Linked DNA regions of Homo sapiens: region 2 is linked to region 1. The links come from fine-mapping of genetic effects on gene expression. A gene starts in region 1. The other region holds a variant in brackets. All regions are shown on one strand. Distances are from middle to middle.

Region 1 (10,047 bases):
ATTAGCCAGGCATGGTGGTATATACCTGTAATCCCAACTACCGGGGGACACTGAGGCAGGAGAATCGCTTGAACCAGGCAGGTGGAAGTTGCAGTGAGCCGAGATCATGCCACTGCACTCCAGTCTGGGCAACAGAGTGAGACTCCATCTCAAAAAAAAAAAAAAGAAAGAAAAGAAAAAAAAGAAATGTCATTTATCTAAAAAGAAAAAAAAAACAGTAACATGCCACCTTCACATGGAACTAAGGTTTCCATACCACCTAATAACAATTATTAATTTAACATGTTCATTTACATGTTGTTCTAACCAGGCTTTGAAAGATCTCCCTCTTGAATTTATAGATGCTTATCTTTCTCTTTACTGTAATTATTTAACATTATAAATTATAGAACTGATTTTAACTTACAGTAATCAAAAGTACAAAAAGTACAAATAAAACATACTTTTAAACAACCATAGTAAATATAGCATATGCCATAACTAAAACATAAGATTTATCCGAGATATAAGTACATTTCTAATCATTTCTAAATTTTTCCTGTATCTAATCTGATTAGATTATAATGACTTTAATATTAAAGAGTCAAAGACACTAATGAGCTTTCTCCTGGTAATGATCTCCAGCCAAAGAACACCAGGAAAACTACCACAGTTAAGTTGGATGTACTACTCATTGCATTAAGGAATGCACGGAGAACACACACCATGGGGAACCCTGTGGTATCGTGGTAAGAGGGTATTGGAAAAGACTTATATGTGTTGGGTGATTTGGGGGAAGGCTTAATTTGAGGAAGTGGAGCTTTGCTCAGGATTGAACACTGTTAGAAGTGGGGTTAATTCTATGATGGTACCACTCAATAAATCTAAAATATAGGGGGAGGCTAATGCTGTAACTGGTAAACAAGCAGTAGTCATTCACATCAGCTGGGAAAGGGAATGTTTGGTATCTCGGTTCTTGGACAATATTTACGTTTTGTCTGTGTTTGGAGACACTGATGGAATGTTTTTGTCTTGATCCATCATAGACACAGAGCGGCCTTATCTGATGTTGACATTCTGTACAATAGTTTATCTTCAACAGAAAAACACAAAGTTACTGTGAATGCCAGGCTAGTTTCTAGCAATACCAGTTTCTAGATATCACGGCCACTTTTCTTTTTCTCACTCCTAAAAGCATGTGGTAACTTACAGAAAACATATTTCAACTACACAATTATTCAAGAATTACTTGGTGAATCACAGAGACTGGGTTAATAAATATGGCATAGGTACAATATAGAGTAAGAAAGTTTATAATTTAAGGATTAAGTTGCCAAAAATAAATCAGCTGAAAGAAACCTAAATGAGATTATTTATATATGACACTCTACAATATAAAGTCACTCACAACTTTTTTCAAGACATCATGGCCAAGTATTATTTCTCCAGTAGCTGTGTACATAGTATGTAGATGATAAACAGTTTTCAGGAAAATAGTTTAATTGAAAGAACTGAGTTTGAAATATACTTCTATCACTTATTGATCTCAACATGAATGACCTCAAGCATGTTCCTTAACTGCTCTATGCCTAATCTATAAAACAGAAATATCATTTATTCTAGTATATTATGAAGAAAAAAGAAAATAATGCATATAAAAATTATGACAGAGAACCTAACACTTAGAAATCAACAGATCAGGCCAGGCGCAGTGGCCCATGCCTGTAATCCCAGCACTGTGGGAAGCCAAGGAGAGTGGATCACCTGAGGTTAGGAGTTTGAGACCAGTCTGGCTAACACAGCAAAACCCATCTCCACTAAAAATACAAAAATTAGCCAGGCATGGTGGCACACCTCTGTAGTCCCAGCTACTCAGGAGGCTGAGGCAGGAGAATTGCTTGAACCCAGGAAGCAGAGGCTGTAGTGAGCCCAGATCACGCCACTGTACTACAGCCTCGATGACAGAGCAATACTCTGTCAAAAAAAAAAAAAAAAGAAATCAACAGATCAATTCTTTTATTGTTTATGGTTGTATCTTTACAGTCTTTGCATATATGAAGATTTACCTCTTAAAAACAGAGCCTGCAGCCGCGCGTTGTGGCTCACACCTGTAATCCCAACACTTTGGGAGGCCGAGGCGGGCGGATCACGAGGTCAGGAGATCAAGACCATCCTGGCTAACACGGTGAAACCCCGTCTCTACTAAAAGTACAAAAAATTAGCCAGGCTTGGTGGCAGGCGCCTGTAGTTCCAGCTACTCAGAAGGCTGAGGCAGGAGAATGGAGTGAACCTGGGAGGCAGAGCTTGCAGTGAGCTGAGATCGTGCCACTGCACTCCAGCCTAGGTGACAGAGCGAGACTCTTGTCTCAAAAACCAAAACAAACAAACAAACAAACAAAAAAAACAGAGCCTGCAAACGTAAAGTATGCTGAGATTTAAATAATCAATAATTGATACTTGGTTATCATAATCCACACCAACATCTCTAAACCTTAACCTTTGGCTCTTTATGCTTATCATATAGATATAAGCAGACCAGAGCATACCCATTCTGCTAAGTCTAGTCAAATCCAATAAACAAACAGAACCCAGTTAAAACTGAGTTTGCCCAATTCCTTCTCCCAAATCCATCAGTCACAAAAAGATGGGAAAATGTTGCTCCTATCCTTTTCCCTCTCAAGGAGTGGAGTACAAATTTCCTCCCCACTATGGGAGCATGAGAAATGGAAAATGACTTCCCTCCTAAAGCATGACATTGTGCTAGAGGCTGGCGTAGTCAAAAATATAAAATGTGGCTGGGCACCGTGGCTCACGCCTGTAATCCCAGCACTTTGGGAGGCCAAGACGGGCGGATCGCTTGAGGTCAGGAGTTTGAGACCAGGCTGGCCAACATGACAAAACCCCATCTTTACTACGAATAAAAAAATTAGCTGGGTGTAGCAGGAGGCAGAACCATTGCTTGAAAATGGGAAGCAGAGGTTGCAGTGAGCCGAGATCACACCACTGCACTCCAGCATGGGTAACAGAGTGAGACTCTGTCTCAAAAAACAAACAAACAAACAAACAAAAAACAAATATATATGTGTGTATATATGTGTGTGTGTATATATATGTATATATATAAACATGATTCTTGTCCTCAAATTTGGACAAGATAATGCCCCCTGCTACAGAGGCTGACAGGGGTTTAGGAGCTGAATGTGAGATATCCATAATGGATACACCGGAGATACGAAGAAATCAATCTGAAAATGTCTACAACTCAGAATAGAACCCAGGCTGGAAATAAAGATCTAGCAGTGTTTAAAATAATCATTAAGGCTGTGGGAGAAGAGTTTTGTCTGGAAAAAGAGACCCTAGAGTAGGGGAACAGGACCTAGAACAGGTGTCAAAGTGTGATAACATGTGCGGTGGGGGGAGGGGCCAGTGAAAGAGCTTTAGAAGAAAGGGAGGGACAAAGTGACCAGGACAATGTTTCTCACTTCTCATCCATCCAGAGATCCATCTACCGAATGAAAGGTTCTCCATCTTCCTCCTGGCAGATGGCATCCACATGAGCAACTTCCTCCCATGGGTACACCAAAATTTTGACAAATTTCCCTAAATATTGCTAAGATGTAAATACTGTTGCTGGGGGAAAGAGAGGGAGGCTGGGAGACAGGATACAAAGAGAGAGTGAATAAATATATAAAACCATGTTGAAGTCTTTCAGTAGCTATTAATAATACACCCTTAATGGTGATTAACGGCAGTAGCATAAATTAGCCTTTGGGTTATGCCAAATTGCTGAAACACTTGCTCAAACACCCTTGCCTGCCACTCAGGAAAGTACATCAGAACCTAAGTCAGAATGATGTTAAAAGGATAATCTGAAATCTGCTCAAATGTGTAACAGTTAATTCATATTTGTCTGAAAGCTTCATCTGAGAAAAACTGTACCGAAAGTAGCCTGTTTCAATTTACTCTGTCTAAACTCACCCACTCCCTCCCAGGCGGCCATCTGGCAGAAGACCCAAACTTGAACGGGCACAATGGCTCAGGGCCGTAATTCCAGCACTTTGGGAAGCCGAGGCAAACGGATCACTTGAGGTCAGGAGTTCGAGACCAGCCTGGCCAACAAGGTGAAACCCCCTTCTCTACTAATGCCACTGCACTCCAGCCTGTACAACAGAGCGAGACCCTGTCTCCAAAAACAAAACAAAACAAACAAACAAAAAAACTTGATCCTTGTGGAGCATTTCAGCAGACATTTAATCACCAGAAAGCTAGCGACCTCCTAGGGAGAAGAATGATATGGAGAAAAGAAAATACCTCAATAGCTTCCATGGAGCTTGTCAACATTACAAGTCATTCCTTCACACAGAATAAAGCCTAATTTAGGCTTTTTATAAATTCCTATCGGTTGCTTTTAAGCCCCTGCATTTTCCAAGGTGTTTGGAAAGTAGGTGATGGTTTACTTCAGAATTTAGTCTTCCCCGCAATCCTAGTTAAGCGTCTTAATCCTACAATCTTGAGAGCTAGCCTCTCTCAAAAGATGAGTCCCATTAATAACATGTACTGACAACTGGATTTGAGTCCCACATAAGATTCCTAAAATCAAGGCAGTTAGAAACAAGAGGTTCAAGCTCAAGCAGTCGGGCAATCACGGGGGGAAATACGGTCACAACAGTACGAGCTACGAGCTACGGTGAAGATTAAATAAGTTTTACTAGCAAAGCAGTGCGCACAAGCGCTCCCACGTTAACAATAACAAGCACCGAGGGGCAAGAAAGGCGCTCGGGGAGGCTTGACGGAGCAGGGGGGGCCTGGCCGTTGGGGAGAGAAGGCGCATGGGAACCAAGGAACCGCTCGCCCCCGGGCCCTGGAGGTGGCTGACTAGGAAGCGTCGTCAGGCAACCAGCTATCAACAACACCGCGGGCAGCAGCGACCGCAGTGGCCCAGGAATCCGGACCGTGTAACCAGGGAACCTCCCCGACCCCGGCAGCTGCAAGACCCCTGCTCACAGAACTCCCGCCCCCAACCCTCATAACTCGTAGTCACCGATGCCGGCCTCACGGCGGCGAAATCCCAACTCTCCACACCCTTAACTCGGGCACCTCCCCCACCGCACCCAGCCGCCACGAGACCCCCTGCCGACAAGAAACCCCACCCCCACCCCCAGATTCCAGAGCCTGTAACTCTGGCACGTCGCCGGCCTAGTTGCCTCGAGACCTACGCCCCGAGGGAGCCACTGCCCCTGCCCCCGCTCCGGGGCAGCGAATGCAGCCCCAGGACCCTCCACCCTCAACCTACACCACCCCAGGCCACACCTCGCCACTCACGCTCCCCATCCGCGGCTGGCTGACTCTTACTCAGGGGAGCGGGCTCGCGTCCGGGGAGACACACAGTGCTCTAGAGGATCGTCGCGGACCGAAGAGGTTACAGCGGCCACCTGGAGCGGGAACAGCATGACAGACCTCCGGGCCGGGGCTCCGCCCCTCAGGCCCAGCCCTCCGCTCGCCCTTCGCCAACCGCCGGGTACGGCCCCGCCCCCACTGCAGGCGGCCGCGCGGCAAGACATCGCCCCCTGCTGTCCTGGAGGCCGCATAGCTGCCCGCTGCTCTCGGTTCGCCAGTACGCTGGCCGGGGACTTGGTCAACTCGTTCTCCTGCTGTGCCCAGGGGCTATTAAACTGTGGGGGCCACTTCTCAGGCTAAATCTATTGCAGCCTCTCCAGCCTCCCATGCACCAGCCAGCTTAGGAACAGTGTAAGAGCCTGGAAAGAAAAATGGGGAGGGGTGGTAGTGAGAGGAAAAGTGTTGGCATACCTCTCAGGGCATTACTCCTAGCCCAGGAGTGTGGTCAACGTTGGGTCCTGGGCTTTCATTACCATTTTCAACATATTATTCAGTTCACCCCAATACAATCGCATATGGCCATATGCTACCACTAGAAAAGAGACCTCTAGTTTCCCAGGAGAGTGGAACTAAGGGTAGGTATTAATGTACTATTTTACCCTAAATTTCTTTGTAAGATGGTTTTAAAGGAAATTTTCTTCAACGGAAAGTCAGTGCCAAAACAGCAAGCTGTGGTGTGGATTCAATAATTCTAATGTTTTTGTCTTAACTGATTATTACAACGCATTGTAACAGTTATAGAAGCACCTACGGAGACTTACAGACATAATGGAAGGAATGGTAATTGGAGCGTCAAGAAAGAGTTCGTGGTCGATCTCACTGGACTGCATTTTTAAAGATTAATAGGAGTTCCCAGGCAGAAAATTTACGAAAGAGCGTTTCAAGCAATGCTGACCACATATGCAAAGCCAAAGTAAAGATATCTGCATTGCTAGAATGAAAAGTTTCAAGGGGGGACTAAAAAGAGATGAAGCTGGAAGAGGTGCATAGGGGCCAGGTTGTTAACAGCTGTGGTGCTATCTTTTCTTTTTTCTTCTTTTTTCTTTCTTTCTTTCTTTTTTTTTTTTTTTTTTTTTTTGAGACTGGCTCTGTCTAACAGGCTGGAGTGGCGCAATCTCGGATCACTGCAACTTCCGCCTCCTGGGTTCAAACGATTCTCCTGCCTCAGCCTCATGAGTAGCCGGGACTACAGGCGCACATCATCACGCCCGGCTAATTTTTTTTTGTATTTTTTTAGTAGAGACGGGGTTTCACCATGTTGGCCAGGCTGGTCTTGAACTCCCGACCTCAAGTGATCAGCCCGCCTCGGCTGCCCAAAGTGCTGGGATTACAGGCGTGAGCCACCGCGCCTGGCCTGTCATGCTATCTTTTCAGGAAATAAAAGAAAAAAAAATCTTGAACACCTATGCTAGGTGCTAGGAGATAAAACAAGGAACGCAGACCTGCTCCCTGTGTCTTGAAACTTAAAATCTTGCACGGATGGAAGAATGAGATGGAGAAAAAAGAAAACCTAAAACACGTGAACTAATAAAAAAATTAAACATTGTATTAACTGTAGGAAGAAAACAAACCAGTTACCCAGATTAATTACGCTTTGGGAACAAATGCGGTTCACAGGAGTGCCAAAGATTTAACTGTAACCTGTTACGAGAACTGAGTACTGGACATTTTCAGATCAGTAATGGCACATTATATATACGTAGATGTTAACTTTTACCAAAGCGCAAAAAAGCAATCAAGGAGTACCCACTGCCTCCTCGCATCGATAGAAAAAGCCCATCTGCAAGTGAAGTGCCAAGCCACCACGAGCCCGTTAGCTTTTACGCATGTACAGTGAGTCATCTTGAAGTAAACGGGAATGCCATGTTTATCTTCCTCTCAACCAGCTTCCAGAACGACTTTTAGCTCAGTTGTACAACAGACAGCCTTACCTTTTAGTCTTTCAACAAACTTATCTCATTTAAGGTACCTATACCCACACAAAAACACTTTCCGCCCTCCACATCCCGCTCTTAAGGCTCCAGCTACCTTTAATATGGCGGAGGCCGAGCCTGCGCATTAGAAGCAGAGAAGGCAAATACCAGTTTCTGGAATAACGTTACATGCCCTTCTTCCGGTGCGGAAGACTATACCACTCCCATACCCTATAACTTTGTTTGTTCTATTTCACACATATAATTTTCCGAGACAAGATGTTCTCATTTAAGCAACAAGAAGATTCGTCTCTCGCTATTACTGTAACTGCTGTTTATATCGTCATGTCCCGGAAAGGTCCCTGTCTTCCCTGAATGGTCTCTACCAACTTCACCTCCGGTTCTAGGTGTCATGGCTGCCCCAAGAGTCTAGGTAAGAGTTTGTTCCCGTGGTGCGGAGGGTCAAGGCCCACACCCGGAAACCTAGCGAGGTAAAGTTGCGTCTTGGTTGTAGAGACGACAACTTCTCCGCTTCCTCGGCGATGGCGGCGTCCGGGAGCGGTATGGCCCAGAAAACCTGGGAACTGGCCAACAACATGCAGGAAGCTCAGAGTATCGATGAAATCTACAAATACGACAAGAAACAGCAGCAAGAAATCCTGGCGGCGAAGCCCTGGACTAAGGAGTGAGGAGGTCCCTGGCGAGACGCAGGGGAGGGAAAGGGTGGCGGAGTTTAAGAGACCCAGAGGGAGAGGGAGGTGAAAGGGGTGAAGAGCTTTCACCGACTGGGAGGGGGACAGAATATGCGTCTTGGATCTGCAAGTAGAGCCTAAGCCCTCCGCTGGGGCTTTCACTCCCCTTTCTGTCGCTTTAATCCATTTGCCCCCGGGTGATGTAAGGGGAGAACAACAAGCGGTGATTTAAGTTGTCACTTCTGAACATCCGTATTGTCATATATGCCACACACCCTACCTTGAGCCCAGTGTCGACATGCACCTTGTTTGGGTCTTCAACTAATCCCAAACTGGGGATTGCAGCTGTTTTCAGAAATCGAGTCAGCAGCCCAAGGTCTCAAAAATAGCTATGAGCTATTTTCTTTTCTTTTTTTTTTAATAGAAATGGGTCCTCGCTGTGTTGCTCAGGCTGATCTCGAGCTTCTGCCTTCAAGCGATCCTCCCGCCTTCGCCTTCCAAAGTGCTGGGATTACAGGCGTGAGGCCTGGGCCTATAATAGTTTTTTGATTGCTGGTAATTATTTCGGAGGCACACGGAGGCTCTACTACCTGGTCTCTAAAATGTTACTCCACCAGTTCCCATAAGCCAGAAATTATAAAAATAGAGCTTAAGACCTTTTGCCCTTCAACAATATCCATTTTTCCCTGGGAGTGGTGACAAGTCGAGGGATCTTTACCCATAATATTTATCTTTTCCTGAGAGCATCTCCTGAGAGATTTCCTGCTATCAGGAAAAGATAATTATTACGGGTTATGTTTGAGAGTAAAAAGAGCACGAAAGCTAATGGTTAGATAGAAAGGAAAGCTGTGGTCAACAAGAGGACATACTTCTACTGCCTCACAGTTTTTTTTACAAGGCTAGCCTTGTCTCTCAGTATTCAGATTCCACAATGGTGAACTGCGGAAGCACCTAGCTAGAGATTTCCACGTCATTTAATTTTCATGACAACCCAGTACAGTATATCCATCCTTTTGTTACAAATTAAAAAACAAGCAAATACGTTATGTAATTTATGATCATACTGACATAAGTGAACTCTCAACTGAGCAATAGTCAGACCTAAGATCAAATCTCACAGCTGTCACTAACTAGTTGATTGACCTTAGGAAATTTACTTATCCATCTTCATTTGTCATAATATGGAAATAAGACCTACTTATTGGTATTGTCATAGAGATTAGGTGAGATAATGTATAAAAAGAGTCGTCTAGAATGTATGTAATAGGAGCACAGTAACTTGTCTTTCTTCTTTTCTCCAGTAAAGGGAGAAGCCAAGATTTCGATTCATGTCTTGACTTCCAACATGAGGTCTACACATTTTTCAGCTTTTGGTTGAAATCTGGCAAAGCTTAGGAATTAAATTTGGATTCTTTCTGTGGGCAGACATCTAAAAAGGCTTTGTAGAGACGTTGACTGACTGCTCTGTAAGGCTGCTTAAGTTGCTTGGTTATCTGCTTGCTTCTGTAACAGGCTGTGCATTTTAGGTTCGTGTACTCTTAAATATTTGGAAACTGTTGGCCTGCCTCACTGTCTAATTGTGGCTCTAATTATATTCATCCTAGCTGTCTTGGGCTGCATTAATGAGACCAAAATGTAATTTTATTCAAGAGTTTAATTCACTGATGACCAACTCTGAAATAGTGATCATAGGAGACTAGGATATTAGGGCTACTTTTTAATTTAAGGCTGATATAACAGGGAAGCCCACCCTTCAACACTCTGTTCTTTGAGAGTAGGGTTAAGAGACAGGTTAATAATGCTGATAACAGCTAGCACTTATTAGGGTTCTAGTATGTGTAAGGCACTAAGCACTTTATATACATTATTTCATTTATTTCATCCTAACAACAATTATGAATATCCCTATTTACAGAAAAGGAAACCTAGGCACAGATATTACAGGGTTGTCCCAATACCACAGCTAGGGAATGGCAATGTCAAGATTCAGACCTTAGCAGATGAATGTCAGAACCCACATTCTTAACCATTAGGCCAGAAGGTTAGGCCTCAGAACAGTTAGGCAC
Region 2 (10,092 bases), 880 kb after region 1:
TGGCTGAAAGCTTCTAATATTAGAAGAAAAACCTAGTGAGTATATTTATCTTATTCTTTTATTTCATTAATAAACACTTATTGTGACTGAGCACAGAATGGTAGGCTTGGAGGACCTGAGATTAGACAGAGTTGCCACCTTCAACAGTACCAAGCAACACATCATTACCCCAACAACAACGACAAATGTTTATTGAATACTTATAACTAGGCCCTGAGTGCACTATCTCATTTACTCCCACAAGAGAAACAAATAAGGGGACTTACATTTTATACTGGTTTGACAAAAAAAAAAAAAGGAAATGAGTTTGGAAAATTTAAATAAATTGCCCAAGGTCACCCAGCTAGAAAGCAAGAGTCAGACCTGTATTCAGGTAGCTTGACAAATGTCATACTTAGAAGTCTAGTGTGTCCCCACAGAAAAGTGTTGTAAAGCTGCTTTGAAGTGCTTTGTTTTTAGTGAAATATTTAAGTAAAGATATTAGAACAAATTCCATTACAGACAAGAATCAGATATGCTGCTTACCTTAATCAGTTCGGGCTGCCAAAAAAAAAAAAAATACCATAGACTAGGTGGCTTCAATAACAAACATTTATTTCCCACAGTTCTGGAGGCTGGGACATCCAAGATCAAGCTGCCAGTGGATCCAGTGTCTGGCGAGGGCCTTCTTCCTAGTTTGCAGATGGATGACTTCTCACTGTATCTTCACATAGGCAAGAGGAAGAGAGATCATCTCTTCTGTCTCTTTTTATAAGGGCACTAATCCCACTCATGGGGTTTCCACCCTCATGACCTAATTACCTTCCAAAGGCCCCACCTCCAAATACCATCACATTGGGGATTAGGCTTCAACATATGAATTTTGGGGACACACAAACATTTAGTCCAAGGCACTGTCCTACTTCAAAAAGCAGAATAGCACTTTTATAGAATAAATCTATCAGGTTATATAATTGTATTTCTCCATTCAAATAAAAAACATCCCTTTATTACAAGTATCATTTTCTCTGGAAAGATAAAAGTACATTAGCACAAGGCAGAACTTTATAGCTATTAGGAATTACAGTACAAAGAAAACAAGTTGAAAAATGAGGTGAGGGTCAAATATGTATCTATATTTAACTTTATATAAATTGGAGAATTAAACATCACTGCTGCTTTGCGCGGTTAAGTCTTTTCCTATTATCCTGGCAATGTTGTTGCTCAGATCACTCCTAAAATGCAAAAAGAATAGTGACTGTGGAAAATCAGATCCTTTCTTTTTCAGACATAGGTTTCCCACAATCACACTTCAAGGACTCATTGGCTTTCACAGTTATAAGACCATCTTGAATTGATGTAGCCTTTCTCCTAAGTAGGACACACATAGTCAATCCCCAACAACAAATATGTACCATGCATAAGCAGTATATTAGGATTCATGGACTAAAAGAAGTGGGAGGTAAGTTCATAAATGAACTGGAGGACAGACAGATAAACACACACACGATCAAAAATAACTAGCTCTCAAAATGGAAAAGAATGTTCTACAGATGGATAACAGAAGCCTTGAAGATGAAAAGATCTTGTTCCAAGGTTTGCGAAAGGTCTGAACCCACAACCTGTAACATCTTTGAAATCCACAGCTCCTGAATGTTGGCCTCCCAAGTTTCTGTCCACCTCTGTAGCCCTCATTGCTTGCTCTTTCTTGAATAACTGAGTTTCCCTTATGAAAAGCCCAACTTCATCCATTGCAACCAATTTTGTCTAGGACACGCCTGCCTACTCTAAGAGGGTTCTCCTTTGCAAGGTAGGTCCATGGATTTCCACTGGGCTACATTTCTGTAAAGACCAACTCCTTCCTCTGACCAGGAACTTTATAGCTATTAGGAATTAAAGTACAAAGAAAACAAGTTGGAAAATAAGGTGAGGCTCAAATATGTATCTATATTTAACTTTATATGAATAGGGGCATTAAACATCACTGCTGCTTAGGGCCGCTAAGTCTTTTTCTATTATCCTGACAATGCTGTTGCTCAGATCACTCCTAAAATGCAAAAAGAATAGTGAATGTGGAAAATCAGATCCTTTCTTTTTCAGACATAGGTTTGCCATAATCACCCTTCAAGGGTGATTATGCAAACAGAGTTGACCATTTTATGCATGGTAAGCAGAGGTTTGGCAGCTTCTTGTTTGAAGGTGACCTTTCCCAGGGCAGGTAATCCTCAGAAGCAGTGAAAACAGACAAGTTTCCATACCCTGGGACCCTCTCTTCAAAGGCAAACAGTGACATTTAAAATTTTCTCCTTGGAGTGGTAGAAAATTACTAGTAGCTCTAATCATGAACTTAAATATCAAATGGTAAAGAAAAAAAAGTCTAGCTGGACTCCTCATAAAATGCCTTTGGGCTTATTATATTTCCCAGCTAGTCCAATGATATACATGTTCTGTGGTCAAATGAGTCTGGGAAATGCTAAAGACTTAGGGATTTACACTGCTGAATAAAAATTTAAAAACACTAACAAATTCTGCAGTAAAATATGAATTTAGGTTTTCTTTAACTTTTCCCTTCCCTTTTTATGACACCAGCAACATTCCTAGGAGGCTTCTTTGGGAAGGAACTCTTTCTTCAGAGTTAAGTGATGTTCATGAATATAAATACCTGTTTGGGGGTGCCTGGTTGATGAATTTCTTTTTTCTGAGCAACAATTGTAAGATGATTAGTTCCTGTAAATTGTCTTTCATGACAGAAAGTTCACACACATCCTTTCACTGCCCTCCATCCATTACCTGGAGTCTCAAACAGAACAATCAATGTATTATGATGTAAATAGAAAGGGCAATCGTGTCTGTCAAGACCAGGGCTTGTAAGAGAAGCAGAAACGTGCTGGTTTTCTGATGCTCTGAGTCATCTTCCCAGGGTCAGTTACTTCTCAACTTATGGAAAAATAGATGCACAGGTAACAAAGTCCTTGCCATTTTCTCAGGAAAGGAGGTAAGACACTCAGTGATGACTCATGGGTGCTGACAGAATTTTTGATTGATGGGGAACTTTCCCCACCAAACCGTGGACAGCGATGTGGCTGCCCACTGGTAGAGAGTCCTGGGCTCCTGGGATGCTGCCCTTGCCTTCCGCACCTCCTGTCATCCTGGGCCTGTGATGCTCATTCTGCAGAGGCCCAAGGCTAATAACCCAAAGACCATAAGTCTCTTTTCTGCCTTCTTGCCCCACCAATGTACCCTCCATACTGCATTCAGAGGGGTCTTTCCAAAATGCTTGTGTGTTTACCTCTCATTTCTATGAGACTCCATTAAAATGATAGTATAAACCCAAATGATGAAAATAACAGGATAACGTAAGCAAGTGAGAGGGTTTAGCAAACTTCTGAAATAATGAGAGCAGAGAAGATGGTGTTTGAGGAAGAAAGGGAGAGAAAGCAGCTGTAAGGGGTCCACAAAGGGACAGGAAGGAGGAGGACAGAGAAGATGCTGTGTCTCCAGAGGAAAATGCAGATGAAGAGGCTGTAGGAGGCAGGCAGCTGAGGGAGGAGTCCATCTGCAGAGCCTAGGAGGGGCTCAAGGCTCAGAACCTCCAAGTCTCGCCAAAGACAGGAGTGAGAAAAGGGTCAAAAATACGGAGAATACCTGAAAGTTTATATATGGAAGAGTCAACCTCTCCACCAACTTTTCTCATCCCATGTGAAGAATGCCAGACATTCAAATGTCTGCCTGTTAGGCAACAAGCAAATAAAGAAATAAACATTGCCAGGTATACTGTTATTGGCCTAAATGTGTCTCCTAGATGTAGAAAAATTCACATGTTGAAGTCCTAACTTCTCATATTTCAGAATGTAACTGTATTTGGAAACAGAGCCTTTAAAGAGGTAATTAAGGTTAAATTAGGTCATATGGGTTATCCCTAATACAATATGGCTGATGTCTTTGTAGGCAGAGAAGATGGAAGCAGGGACATGCACAGAGGAAAGGCCGTGTGAAAGCACAGGGAGAAGATGGCCAACCACAAGCCAAGGAGAGAGGCCTGGGAAGAAAGCAACTCTGTTGACACTTTGATCTTGGACTTCTAGCCTCCAGAAGGGAGAAAATAAATTTCTGCTGTTTAAGTTATCCAGTCTGGTATTTGCTATGGCATACTCAGAAAACTAATACATACATTTTTCTTAAATAAAATTGAATGGCTACAGAGAGGAATTCTCTACAATATGACATTCATGGGTATCCCAAGTAAAGACTAGCTCACCATGTGATCACCCTGGAAGGAAGGCTGCTTGGCGAGAAGCAGGCTCCTTACCCTGCATATAGAGTTCTTCATCAACTTTGTACTGAATAATTATTAAACATGAGGGTGCTACCAATCATACACAGGGTCGCCTTCAGGGATTTCACAAAGATCTCCAGCATAAAATTGAGAAATTAAGATAAATAAAGATTTTTAAATGACCACAGATGGAAGAGATAATTCAGGGAAAGAAAGAAAACTTAGAAACCTTCTAGTTAACATTCTTAAAGAAATAGGAGAGAACATTCCACTGTAAAGCAAGAACAGGAGTTATTAAAAAGGAATGGAGAAAGAATAAAAAGTCTGGAGGTTGAATATACAGTTGTAAAATGAAAGTAACTGAAGAGCTGGAAGATATTGAAGAATATCTTAGAAAGCAGAATCGCAAACTAAAAGTTCTAACATGACAGAAAATAGTAAACACAGATGGCCAATAGAGGGGAGAACATCTCATAACAGAAATCCCTAAAAAGAAAGAATAGAGAAAATGGAAAAAATTATAATATAAATAATACAGGAGGTTTTTTTCACCATTGAAGAGTAAGAACCTCAAAATTAAAATGAGTACATGAAAAAAAGACCCAAAGACCATTCTAAAATTTCAGAACATCAACAAAAAAAGAAGAGACTAAAAGCTTCAAGAGAGAATAAGAAAAAAGGTCCTATGAAAAATGAGAATCAGGCTGGGCATGGTGGCTCACTCCTGTAATCCCAGCACTTTGGGAGGCTGAGGTGGGTGGATCACTTGAGGTCATGAGTTCAAGACCAGCCTGGCCAACATGGTGAAACTCCATCTCTACTAAAAATACAAAAATTAGCCAGGCATGGTGGCACATGCCTGTATTCCCAGCTACTTGGGAAGCTGAGGTAGGAGAATCGCTTGAACCTGGGAGGCAGAGATTGCAGTGATTTGAGATCGCACCACTACACTGTCCAGCGTAGGCAGCAGAGTGAGACTCCATGAAAAAAAAAGAAAGAAATAAAAGGAAAATTAGAATGATACTGGATTTCTTATCAGCAGCACTGGATAATACAACACAAGAGAATAATACTTTAAGTTCTAGAAGAGAATTATATTTAACTTGAAATTATATACCTTGGTAAAGCATCACTCAAATATCTGGGTAAAATATAACAATTTTCAGGAATGCAAGGAGTCAGAAAACATGCTTCTCATACATCCTTTCCTAGAAAGTTACCGGAGGATGTTCTCCAGCAAAATAAAATTCAGAAATCAAAAGGGAAAAAGTCCTGTGATTCCGGACAGGGAATTCAATCCAGGGAAGAAGAAAAGAGAAGTCCCAGGAAGAAACCTATGCATCAGATTTAGAAAGTAACTAGTTTGAAAGCAGCAGGTTAGCATGCTCAAGGATCAAGGTCTTAAAAAGAGGGGGAGGACTTAATAGATTACTTATCATGATTGAAAATTTGAAAAAATATGAGAACAAAATTAAGGCAGTTCGTAATTCTAGGAAAAAACCAAACTGGGATTATAAAAAATATAAAAGTGTCAATTGAAAATTGTAGAAAAAAAAACAAGATAGGAAATGTAATCAGAGTCTATGATCTTATTCTTCAGTGAACAACTTTCATAGTCAATAATTAAAAACTATATTGACTTCCTACTTTTAGAATCTATCTATCTATCTATCTATCTATCTATCTATCTATCTATC[TATCTATCA/A]TCATCTGTCTATCTATATCTATCTAGAGCTTCTTGGCCCTTTGGCTAAGATCAAGTGTAGAATCAATTATAGTAAAAGCATAAAAGCATGGGAGATTTAACTATGATTATAAAAATAATTAACGGACAATCTAGAAGTAGAAGTATAGATGAAAGAGACTGAGAGATCAAGGTGCAGGAGGGTGTCTGAAAAGTTGAAGGGATAAATAATCTCATCTTACAATCTGGGAGTTAAGAGATATTGTTTATATTTGAAGACTCAAGAAATAATTCTGTGGGTATATTACTTAAAAGTGCAAGGGTAAGATGAAAAAGAATAAAAAGCAGGTCATTAGGGCAGTGATCAACAATGAAGAATGAATAGAAAATTTGGCACATATTGATGCAATACCATGCAATAAAAAAAGGATTTCACTTGGATATAGGAAAATGCTTGAGATATAATTTTAAATGGAAAAAAGTAGATTATAAAATTTTAACTATAAAATGTTATTTAGTTATGTCTGGATAATATGTACAGTTTATGGGTAATTTTTATACTTCATTCATTCAACAGATTTTCTGCATTTCATTCATTCAACAGGCTTACTGGAAATCTACCATGTTTGGGGCAAGAGAAATGGATATGGCAACTTACAAAGATGATCAAAGCCCTGCTACACAGTTTACTGTCCAGCAAAGGAGGTACATATTGTACCAGTAACTATAACAAAATGTGAGCTTTACAATGAAGGACATTCATGCTATTAGGAAAATATGAAGCACAGGTGCTGAACCTAATATAGGAATCTGGGGAAGATTTCTTCAACAAATTATTTTGCAATGAATTAATTAATTAATGTAAATTGACAAATAAAAATTGTATATGTTTATGGTGTATGACATGTTTTGATATATGCGTATATTGTGGAATGGCTAAATCAAGTTATCAACATATCCATTACCTCACTTACTTACCAATTTCTGGTGATGAGAACATTTAAAATTTACTCTCTCAATTATTTTAAATGTTAAAATGAGAGTTTTTTTTTTAAGCAGAGATTCAGTATTAAGAACATGGTGTTATCAAAATTATGATTATGAGCTCAGGAAAAATGCTCAAGGGAAACAACAAAATATTAATTATCTGTGATGATCTTTAGATTCAGATATTCTGAGGAATTTTATATTCTTTATGCTTTTCTGATTTTTCTAAGTTTTCTGCAAAGAGCACATATGGCTTTGATAATCAGAAGAGACTAACAGAAGTTATTGTTGCCAGTGAAGCAGTTAGATATTTTGCTGTTTGAGGGCCTTTCCTCAGTCCTCCTGTGGAAGCAGAAGGCAGTTACTTAATCTATCTAAAGAACAGTTACAAACAATTACCAAACCACCTGTCCACCCTAGGCATTTCTGAAGGCTCTCATTGGAAACAGTAGATTCATTTCAACAAATGTTTCTGTTAGCCAACTTGGAGATGGTGTTTGTTCACCACGAGCTGTGCTAATAGAAGCTTGTGAAGGTACAAGGTGATACAAGTGACAAAAATATGCCCACTAGTTACCTATTATTTCTGATATTTCTTTATTAGACTGTTGTGTTGGCTCTGTTTTAATTTACCTATACCGTATATTATGTAGCCATTGAAAAATATGATTTAAAACATGAAGTAATCCCTGTTTTTGTGCCCATGTTTCTTGGATTGTGTTTTTAGGTTCTAAAAGCATTGAAATTGATTCTCCAATGACTCCTTTCCAGAAGTTATTCTTACATGTAAGATCAGATCTGTCAGTGGTGATTTCTATGTATTTGGATATTTAGTTTATAGCACATTTAAGTTATCTGCATTATGTTATTTCTCAAATCATAGATCTATATTATAATTTTAAGAATCCCTTTCACCCTCCATACTGTATCCAAAGATCACTTTTTTCAAAGGTCACCTAGGCAGAATAATCAAATTAATGCTTTTAATTTGGTAATACTGAAAAGTAAATTGCAATGTATGCACACACAGATTGAAAATCAGGTGCCACAGACATGAGCATGCACAGAGAATTTCTGCATTCTCATGCCTTAGTTTATCAAATAAGGAAAATGTATAAAAAGCTACTCCACAATTGGTGTGTGAATATATTACTTTATCTAAATGCATCTTCTCAGGCCAGGCATGGTGATTGATGCCTATAATTCCAACTGCTCAGGAGTCTGAGGATCGCTTGAGTCCTGGAGTTCTAGGCTGCAGTGAGTATCACAGTGCCTTCAGCCTGGGCAAGAAAGTGAGATTCTAGCTCTAAAATATTTTAAAATTCATCTTTTCACCTCAGTTTGTGTGCCTCTGCTGGAAAAGAAAGTCCAAAGGTTATTGTTACATTATGCAAATAATATGGGCTTGCAATCAAAAGAGCTGGTTCCTAATTCTCACTTTACCACTAACTTGCTGAGTGACTTCAGGTAAGTCACTTAACTTCTCTGGTTCTCATTTAAACCAAGTGATCTCTTTAAGTCATTTCTAATGTGAAAACTGCGTGATTTAATGAGATATACATTTTGGATAATGATATGGTTAGATTGTGTCCCCACCCAAATCTCATCTTGAATTGTAGCCCCCATAATTCCCACGTGTTGTGGGAGAGACCTGGTGGGAGGTAACTGAATCATAAGGGTGGGTTGTTCCCATGCTGTTCTTGTGATAGTAAATAAGTCTCATCAGATCTGATGGTTTTAGAAAGGGGAGTTCTCTTTCACATGCTCTCTCTTGCCTGCCACCATGTAAGACGTGTCTTTGCTTCTCCATTGCCTTCTGCCATGATTGTGAGGCCTCCCCTACCATGTGAAAATGTGAGTCCATTAAACTGCTTTCCTTTATAAATTACCCAGTCTCAGGTATGTCTTTATTAGCAGTGTGAGAACAGACAAATACAGATAAATTGTGGCTGTGCATAGCTTCTCTTCCTCTGGGGTTCAGGAACATTTTTTTCCTTACTCCCTAGTTGGAGCCACTTTGGCTCTATTAATGACTTACCCCAAGAAAACCTCACAGCAAGGACTCAACAGTGATGAGGGAGCTATACTAAAACAATATCCCCCAGATAGCCCAATGGGAGAGAGATTTGTATGGGCATGGGTTTAGTCAGAGCCCAAAACTTGTTGTGTCTTCTCTGGAAGAACCTCCCAGACCTCCCCAGCTAAACTCATAACCACATCCCTTTCCTAGTTTATCTTCTGTGTCCATTTACTGCACTGAAACTTCCTATTCCAAGTCAACGTTTCACCTCCAGATTGACATCCAAGCTGAAATCTGCTAACAGGGTCAGAAAACAGTTCATAAAGGAAAGTAAGCAAAAATGTTGAACCCATTCCAGCTTAATAAAAAAAAAAAAAGCCCACAATAACAAAATCTAAGGTTCTGTGTGCTTTCCTACCAATATAAAACACAGCTTTCTCCCAGAAACTCAACCATTTTCCATAATCATGATCTTCTATTAACAACTCACATCTTTCCAAGTAGGCACATTCTCTCTGTTCTCTTATGTCAAAAGTACATAACATGGTGCAGTGATCCAACTATGGGCTGGCTTCTCTGCAAACTGTCAACATTTCTCTCCCTGCCTTCCCTTTGTTCCTAAGAGCAGTTGTGGATTGGTATAGACCCAAAATGGAAGTTGAAATATGCATTGCATCATTTGTCACATTAGCTACAAAGGAAGCAGCAGAAGTAATCAGAAATGAGGAGCAGGAAATTTCCGATAAACAACTCTGATGGTTATCTGGAAGCTGAATTGAATCACAGGCACAAGAACTTGGAATTGCATTTTGAATTGCAGAATTAGAGGTAACTGCCTCCCACCTATATGATAGTGTCAATTAATCAAAAATTGAATATAGTTTTACAGGCTTAGCATTCCATTCCATTCTGCGACATGTCAGAGAGCATTTATTTATTTAACAGGCTGACATGAAGCACATTTGGATTTGGAAAAAGAAATAATTAAAAAGAACCACCCTGGGTGGCCCAGATGTGGATACTATTATGGATGTTGATAGTATTTGGAGGTGAAATGAACGAGTTTTTTTTTACAGACTCAATATTGACCAATGAAAACATGTAACTAATGAATTTAGCCCTGTAGTCAAGCAGTTTAAGCCTTTT

Which allele goes with the higher level. Positions count from the first base shown, and alleles are read on the strand shown. Sizes are in standard deviations (SD) of each study's normalised expression.
For the expression in monocytes after LPS of the gene that starts at base 5,436 in region 1, allele TATCTATCA in region 2 goes with a higher level than allele A (large effect, 0.79 SD a copy in Fairfax 2014).

Evidence for each region.
Region 2: its variant is fine-mapped to the expression of CSPP1 in monocytes after LPS (Fairfax 2014, PIP 0.95).

The regions. Positions count from the first base shown.
Region 1 is chr8:67,059,781-67,069,827 of GRCh38, reverse strand. It overlaps CSPP1 (centrosome and spindle pole associated protein 1), which reads right to left and starts at 5,436. Exons shown (of 31, transcript NM_001382391.1): 1 at 5,290-5,436. It overlaps COPS5 (COP9 signalosome subunit 5), which reads left to right and starts at 7,695. Exons shown (of 8, transcript NM_006837.3): 1 at 7,695-7,974. The coding sequence starts at 7,832. RefSeq lists silencers at 5,293-5,480, 5,419-5,558 and enhancers at 7,489-7,758, 7,939-8,028.
Region 2 is chr8:66,179,443-66,189,534 of GRCh38, reverse strand. LOC112268029 (a long non-coding RNA gene) reads left to right here and starts at 2,887. Exons shown (of 4, transcript XR_002956713.2): 1 at 2,887-2,974; 2 at 6,544-6,644; 3 at 7,654-7,712; 4 at 9,575-9,649. It overlaps LOC124901954 (a long non-coding RNA gene), which reads right to left and starts at 4,019. Exons shown (of 2, transcript XR_007060948.1): 1 at 2,642-4,019; 2 at 574-703. RefSeq lists an enhancer at 2,461-3,071. The variant TATCTATCA/A (reference allele first, on the strand shown) is at 5,953.